Regions from separate parts of the Homo sapiens genome. Here region 2 is linked to region 1. Evidence: fine-mapped expression QTL. A gene starts in region 1. The other region holds a variant in brackets. All regions are shown on one strand. Distances are from middle to middle.

Evidence for each region. PIP is the estimated chance that this variant, and not a neighbour inherited with it, causes the effect.
Region 2: its variant is fine-mapped to the expression of LINC00472 in tibial artery (GTEx, PIP 0.92).

The regions. Positions count from the first base shown.
Region 1 is chr6:71,418,801-71,423,201 of GRCh38, reverse strand. LINC00472 (long intergenic non-protein coding RNA 472) reads left to right here and starts at 2,457. Exons shown (of 3, transcript NR_121614.1): 1 at 2,457-3,136. LINC01626 (long intergenic non-protein coding RNA 1626) reads right to left here and starts at 2,175. Exons shown (of 8, transcript NR_121615.1): 1 at 2,101-2,175.
Region 2 is chr6:71,494,030-71,498,430 of GRCh38, reverse strand. No RefSeq gene overlaps it. Among named protein-coding and RNA genes, the nearest start is that of LINC01626, 75 kb to the right of the region's middle. RefSeq lists an enhancer at 2,197-2,396. The variant A/G (reference allele first, on the strand shown) is at 2,337.

The DNA of each region.
Region 1 (4,401 bases):
ATTACCCAGACAATCACTGAAATATTCATTTCCATGTAATAAATGGGTATGGACTTGTCGATTATCAGGAAATTACCACACACTGGTTTTGACTTAACTATACTTAGTAAATCATGCATATTCATATTGATAAATTCTTCCACAATTTTCACTCAGAAAATGAAATACATACAGTTAATTAACTGAAAATTACAACTGCTGGTTCAACTAAATTCAGCAAATTTTACATTCTAGTGTTACCATATGTACATTTGTTTGAAGTAGTAATTAAACTTCTGTACTAGACTCCATATTCTGGGAAAAAGTAAACATATTATGACACATGGAATCTAAAAATACACATTTATTTTCCTCTTTGACAAGTACAAAAGTGATAAGTGAATCTTCAATAAATGCCCCCAAAATTTAAAATTCAGTAATTGATTTATGGGTATAACTTTGACCCAGCCATTTACAACTTCCATCTAAAACTATATTAGCAGACATGGGATACGTTAACTTATTTTAAGCATATACATTGAAACTTGCTTAAGTTTTTAAACATTATGAACAGAGTATTAAACTGGACATTATGATACATCTTGTTTTTGAGGAATATACTAAGAGGAATACACTAAGAGTGAATAAAATTTCTCGAACGTTTTCCATCCAGAATTCTTTCCTCAGTATTCTTCTCTTCTAACATCCTCTTCATTAAAAAAGAGAAAGAAACCCTGAAAGTACTGCTTTGATCTAGAATGAACAGGCAGGAGTTTCATTCAGATCTATTTTGAGAGAAAACTGATGGGCTCAAAAATATACTTCAGTTGAAAAAATGTGCAGTCGAGGAAATATTAATGTTCTGATAATAAACAGAGAATAATAACACATTTAAGACTGTTCTGCACTTGGCACAGTATTTTACAGAAAGCAAAGTGCTTGACAAACACTATCTTGGAGGGATCTTACAGCACCCCAAGGAGGCAGGTAGAGCCAGGCGTATTGTTCTCTTGTAACAGAGTTAGTCATTAAGAGATTGGCTCAAGGTCAATCCAGAACCTGGATCTGTTGATAAAACTTTATTTCAGGGGTCATGTTATCCCCCGAACTTAATGTGGTAAGTCATGGTGAGTTTCAATCACGAAAGCAAGGAGGTAATATAGCCATATTTTTCTTGTTTGAGATCTCTCTCTTCTTTCCGTTCATTGTACAGATCACCCTTTAAAAAATGTATTTGGTCATCAAAATAATTTATAAAGAAGGAACATGCCACATGTGTACAAAAATTTTTAAATGCACAGTTTATTACCCGAAGAAATAAACTGACGTAACTATTTGAAGTACAAATAAGTGTAATTTTATTTTAAAAGATGCAAATATGTGTTGCCAAATACTGTTTTCGTCATGGTGTAGTCCACTTTCAGTAAACAACTCAATGAAGTTTATAAACTTCATATGAACAGTAACAAATGAGTCATCCTATTCAAATCAAATAAACAAATAACTAGTGTGCCTATTATTTGTAAGGTCCTGTGATCAAAAGGTACAGTCGTTTATAGCCAGTGCTTTACTCAAGTCCTTTCTTGATAGATAGATGGGTGGCAGATGGATAGAGATATCCTACATATCTATCATCTATCTCTACATTCTTCTTTTCCGGTATTTCATCCAACTTCCACTAAAGATAGTTTGTGTGACTTTATTATAGAAATAAAGTTCACAATAAAGATGATTTACATACAGAACTCTTATATTTTCATTCATGGAAAAAACCACAACATGGTGGTGCCAGTGACAGTCTGTGTTTTGGGGCAGGATAGAAACTAACCTGCTTCAGTTACCTGACATTCTAGCAAACTTATTAGGAACACAAACGCTCGGGTCTCTGAATGCACCAACCTGAGCGCCGGCTGATTAGGCATTGTAAAGCAGTGTTCTAAAAGGAAAGGCCTTCACTTAAACAGTGCTACAACGTGTTTGTTCAGCTTTCTTTCATACACAAACTTTTGCCAGAAAAGGCGTTTTAAGCCGAGGGTAAAGATTTTGTGCGTCCACCGTTCCCATCTTCAACTCTTTAGAATAATAGTCATTTAAGCACCGGACCTGTCTTCAGATTCTTACTTTGCGACACAGCTTTGGCCGGACTTGGCTTGATCTGGGCTCCAGGATCGGTCCCACCACCCGGGCTCGGAGCGGTTTGTTCCTAGTGGATCAGGGCGGGTGTGTTGCCGGAGTCGCCTTCTATTGGCTACACTCCCGGGGACTGGCTGGGCTTTCCGACACCTGATTGGGCGGAACAGCCCTCTGTACGCCGACATCATTGGAGGGCGCTGGAGCCAGGGGGCGGAGCGGGTTCCCCAGGATTCTTGACCGGGCGCGCTAGTCCGTCCGCTGAGCCGGGCGCGGGGCGCAAGAGCGGAGCTGCGCGAGCCGCTGCGGAGGGAAGGGCTCCTAGCCAATTGGGGTCTTTGAGGCGAATGCGAGGCTGGGGCCGGTTGCCTACCGGCCGCTTCTCGCCGAGGCAGTCCAGACTTTTCCCCCGGCGGTGCCCGCTCCAAGACAGCATCTGTCAACGCTCCTCTTCTCCCCTCCTCCTCCTGCCGGGCCGGGCTCCGCCGGCTGCGGCCGAGAGGACGCGGGACCCGGCGCGGTGAGCCCATCAGCTGTCAGGCGAGCGGCGAAGCGGCTGGAGGGCGGCGAGAGACACACAAAGAACGCGGTGGGCGGCGGCGGCGAAAGGGGACGGCAACTCCTCCCCGCGCCCGCCGGTGCCACCGCCGGCCGTGCTTGTTCCGAGGCCGCGCAGACAATGCGGCCGGGCTCGTCCCCGCGTGCCCCAGAGTGCGGAGCGCCCGCGCTCCCCCGACCCCAACTTGACCGTCTCCCGGCTCGCCCAGCCCCCTCCCGGGGTAGGGGCGCCCCCTCCCTCCGGTGGCCGGCGAAGGAAGTCGGTCCGCGGCCGCAGATCCCGGCAACTTGCGAACCGGGAAAAGTTTGCGGCGCCTCCGCGGGGCGGCGCGACGCGGCCCGCCCCTCGCGTCCGCGGTCATCGCGGGTGACTTTCTCGACTCGTCGTCAGCCGGGGCCGCAGCGCGGCCGGTGGGGACTGCGGGGCGGGCCGGAGTCCGTCCGAGGGCTCCCGCACCTCGGGCTGCGGGTGAGTCGGCTTTAGGCGCCGTGGGCTCAAGTGGTTTAGGGCACCTGGGCTTGGGAAGAAGTCGTGGAGAGAGCCTTTAATACTTTATGGAGCTGGCGGGGAGAACAAATAAAATTGCGGTAGCTTGAAGGGCACTGACATGCCACTGACTTGGGAACCGTATCCGTGGGAACTCTTCGGGTGCCGGCGCGACCAAGGGCCTGTGCGCGGCTGGGTGGGAGATGGAAAGGTTAGAAGGTCGCGGACTAGCCCTGCCTGCGACTGGCTCAGCTTGACCTTGGACCAGTGACTTTACCACTTAGATTTTTCTCGTGGGTAATATGTGGGGCCACAGCAACGTGGTCTATGCTGTCGTCCAGTTTTTAGACTACATCTCCGTTTTTGAGATTTTCCTAGGGCCTCAACACGGTGCGCGAGTTATCAAGCGATAGGCCAGGATATGTTTACATGCGCCTGGATTCACCTTTCAGCCTACTCAGAAGTAACTTTTAAGTCTGATGTTTTAAAACACTAACATTTAAAGGCTTTCCTTCACTATCCATTGCTTATTTTACGAACCTTAGGATTGTCGTATTTTGCTGCACCATTTGGAATCCTAGGGGCCAGGGTGGGGACAGAGAGCCAAGTCTGAGGGTGAAGTGGCAGGTGCCCCCGGGCGATCCCTGCCGGATCCAGTTGAGGGGGAGAACAAAGCATTTATTATGCATAAGAGAGAGTGAACAGGGCAGGTGTTTGTGTTTTTGTTTTCTGTATTATACTGAAAACTTTTTTTGGTTGGGGGGGTGCGGGCAGTGGAGGAGGGGACAAAGAAGAAAAAGAAATGTCAAAAAAGAGAGGAAAATGTCACTTATACCCAAAGTAAATCTTAAAACTAATGTAAGTCTTCCTTACAGGAACAGCAACACATAATGCAAGTACATCTTGATCTAATTTTAATGAAGGATTGAAAATAGCTACTGTGTTCAGTATTACTGACGCCAAGGCAGCTCACTTACATAATCTTCTTTGTTGAGATGTGTTAGTGGCATGTATAATTTTGATAAATAATTAATGTTAAAGGTTTAGTCCGGCAATGGTATTGAAATATTGTCGTCACAGATTGTATTGCAAGACAATGGTGTGTAAACTTTTGGTTATCATGATAACCTGCATTTTTTTCTCTAAACAGTAAAATCACACATTTTTCATAACCAAAATTCTCTTAAATAATGCATGTGTACTTTGTCAGTAGTGTATACAGGAGAAATTATTTTGTTCTGTAAATG
Region 2 (4,401 bases), 75 kb before region 1:
CAGGCACATGCCACCACACCCAGCTAATTTTTGTATTTTTAGTAGAGATGGGATTTCACCATGTTGACCAGTCTGATCTCGAACTCCTGACCTTGTGATCCGCCTGCCTTGGCCTCCCAAAGTGCTGAGATTACAGGCGTGAACCACCGTGCCCGGCCATCATTATTTTTAATAGATCTATAATGTCCCATATTATTACCATATCATAATTTATTCAACTATTCCCTCTGTAATGAACATTCAACTTGTTTTCAGGTTTTTGCCACCTGAAAAATCACCTGTTTATTACAGAGCTTTTACTTTATAAGTAATAAACCCTTTAATAGACATGTGTTTATGTACTGGTAATTCCTCAATTGGGATTGCTAAATAAAAGTGTATGATGTTTTAAATTGTAATAGCCATTTCCAGTTTAATTTCTAAAAAGGTTTGAGCAAGTCACACTCCCAGCAGCTAAGTAGAGGGCCTACTTCACTAATGTTGGACAGTGTTTTCTTCTTTAAATTTTTGCTTATCTGGTGTGTGAAATATTCCATCTAATTTTCTTATATTTTTCATTTCCTTGATTCACTAGTGAAAATACAATGTTTGTGGCCCATTTTCTTTTCTTTATTTACAACTTCTTTTAGTAGTCATTTGTACATTAGGAATATCACTTACATGTCTTCTGATGGCATTCTGACTGCATATATTTTTCCCAATCCATTGTTTTGTATAAGATATGTCTTCAAATACACACAAATACACACACACAGTCATGCACTGCATAATGACATTTCAGTTAATGATGGGCCTCTTTTACGACGGTGTTCCTGTAAGATTATTGGTCCTATAAGATTATAATACTGTATTTTTGCACTACCTTTTCTATATTCAGATATGTTTACATATTAAAAACTTACCACTGTGTTACAATTGCACACAGTATTCAGTAAAGACACAAGCTGCAAAGGTTTATAGCCTAGAAGCAATAGGCTATGCCATATAGGCATGTAGTAGGCTATACCATCTAAGTTTGTGTAAGCACTCTATGATGTTTGCACAGTGGTGGAATCACCTCATGATTTATTTCTCAAAATGTATCCCCATTGTTAAGTAATGCATGACTATATATGTATATATGTACACACACATATATATATATTCCTTCATTCTAATCCAGTTAAATATAACCATGTTTTCTTGCTAAGTTTCCTACCTACCTTAACATCTCTCTTGACCAAAATTGTACACGTATTTTTAAATATTTTGTTTTATTTTTAATTTTTACATTTTGTTTATATTAAAATTTCATTTAAAGATAGGGTCAAGGAGGAACCCCCTAGAAGCTGATGAGCCTTGTAAGTTCCAGTAGTTTCCAACTCATCTTTAGGTCATTTCTTCCTCACAAATCATTCCTTTCTCATGCAAATATTTCTCCTGTTTCCATCAATATACTTGGAAATAACAAACCACTTTTCTTTTAAAATAGTGAATCCAAAATTTGTATCGAATTTCCCCCAATTAATTAAAAGAAATTTACTTCAACAAGCACTCTCTATTGCTGTCTGCTGTGCATCGGGTGTTGGGGAAACATTGGCAGAGATACAGAAAGGGGAAAATGTGACATGGCAGTTTTCCATAGGGCACTTCCAAACTTGATAAGATATTCTTTTTCAGACCAAAGCTCTACAAAGTTTACAGTTCAATTTTATATCAAGGGACCAATTTTTCACACACGAATCATCATTTAAAATTTGGTGGTGAAAAGGGAAATGGCAGAAAAATTTTGTGGAGTGGGGGTTGTCTCTTTTGTTCTCTTGTGGGAAACACAAAAAACAAAATAAAATGTGACTGTTGCTTCCTTCCCCCACATCCCAAACTCTATGTGGTTTAGAGGAAGGAAGTGTTCAGGAGAGAAATCAGTTTCCTAAAGTTTTAACCAAAAGACTTAGGGGATTGAATTTTTTTCTAAAATAACAACTGCAAACGGATATTTATATAAAGAGTTAGGTCAAACCTAAGAACTAAGAGTTTATTTTTAGATTTCTGCTTGGCCAAGGGGGAAATATGGTAAATGAGCCTCATGTTCTTAAATGGGCATGCAATGGAACTCAAAAGATTTCAGAAATCTGAGAAAATGCTCTTAAGAGCATCAGTTTCTGTAGGCATTATTAGAAACCCCTAGACAATAACAATATTACTACGGGTTTTCTTCCTTCCCCGCCGGCCCCCAAAGTTACTTTCAGTTTTAGTGCTCTGGTCTCTACATTCTTGAAGATACCAAAACAAAAAGAATAAAGATTATGTAAACATAGAAGATATAAATAGAATGTCAAGTGACTTTAGCTGCACAG[A/G]TGGTGAAGCTGTGCTTTCTGTGGGGCAGCCACCAGCCCTGTGTGGCTATGAAGCATTTAAATGTGGCAAGTCCAGATTGAGATCTGCAGAAGCATTTAGTACACATTGGATTTAAAAGTGAAGTATGAAAAAATACAAAATATCTCATTAAAATGTTTATATTGATTACATATTGAAATGGTCATACTTTAGACATAGTTGGTTCTATAAAAATATATTATTAAAATTAATTGCACCCATTTCTTTTTTCCTTTTTTAAGTGTGACTACAAGAATATTTAAAATTGCATCTGTAACTCAGAAAATCTTTCTGTTATATAACAGTGGTACAGTACTGGAATTAAGAGCTGGGCTCTGAAGTAAACCTACCTGGATTCATAGTTGGGCTACTGACACACAGGCCAGATGACCTTGGGTAAGTTCCATAGGCAATCTGTGCATCAAATTTCATATTTATAAAACTATGAAGGATAAAAGCTTTCCTATTTCAGAGGGCTGTTTGAGCATAAAGCGTTCAGAGCCTGGCACGGTATAAGAATTCACTAAGGCTTCGTTCTGTTATTTTTACTTCAGAATCCAAAAAAGCAAACACTTTTTTTCTGTAAGAGAGAAGCTCTAAAAATAAACAACAAAAAAAAATTAAAATCAGAAATTTATGCTTCCCCCACCTTCCTTCCCCATTCTTTGCAGCCAACTTATTACATTGAGGAAAAAAATCAAACTATCCTTCTAAAACAAAATATTTTCAAGATGCGAGATTGTCTGTTAGGCATTTTTTACCCCCCATAGCTGTGCCCAGTTCTCTGAGAAGACGAATGCAATTAGAGAAAACTATAGATTTTTCCTTTCTATTAATACATCTCATACAGAATTATTGGCTGTAGTATTGGATCTGACTTTAGAAAAAAATAAGAGCATGTATCTGATGCCCCTGACATCATGGAAGTGAGCCTGAAAACAATAATAGTTACAAGGCACAACTTGAAGTTATTGTGGGTTCAGTTCTAGACCACTGCAATAAAATAGACATCACGATAAAAGGAGCCATACTATTTTTTTTGTTTCCCAGTGCATTTAAAAGTTATGTTTATACTATACTGCAATCTATTAAGTGTGCAATAGCATTATGTCTAAAAAATGTACTTACCTTAATTTTAGAATACTTTATTGCTAAAAAATTCTAATGATCATCTGAGCTTTGAATGGGTCCTAATCTTTTGCTGGTAAAGGGTCATGCCTCGACGACCACTGCTGATCAGGATGGTGGTTGCTAAAAGTTGGGGTGGCTACAGCACTTTTTAAAAATAAGGCAACAATGAAGTTTGTCACATTGATTGAATTTCCCTTTCACAAAAGATTTCTCTGTAGTGTATGATGCTGTTTGATAACATTTTACCCACAAGAGAACTTCTTTCAAAATTGGAGTCACTCCTCTTAAAACCTGCCACTGCTTTATCAACTAAGTTTATGTAATATTCCAGATTCCTTGTTGTCATTTCAACACTGTTCACAGTATCTTCACCAAGAGTAGATTCTATCTCAAGAAACCACTTTCTTTGCTCAGCCATAAGAAGCAACTTCTTATCCATTCAAGTTTTAACATGAGATTGGAGGAATCCAGTCCAATCTTCAAGCTGAACTTATAATATCAGTTCTCTTGCTATTTCCACCACATCTACAGTTCCTTCCTACACTGAAGTCTTGAACCCTCAAAAGCATCCACAGAGGTTGAAATCAACTTCTTCCAAACTTCTGTTAATGTTGATATTTTGACCTCCTCCCATAAATTATGAATGGTCTTTCTGACATCTAGAATGGCAAATCCTTTCCAGAAGGTTTTCAATTTGCCCAGATTCATCAAGAAATCACTATCTATGGCAGCTATAGTCTTATGAAATGCATTTCTTAAAAAATAAGACTTGAAAGCCAAAATTACTACTTGACCCATGGGCTGCAGAAAGGACACTGTGTTAGCAGCGTGAAAATAACATTAATCTCCTTATACATCTCCATCAGAGGTCTTAGGTGACCAGGTGCATTGTCAATGAGCAGTAATGTTTTGAAA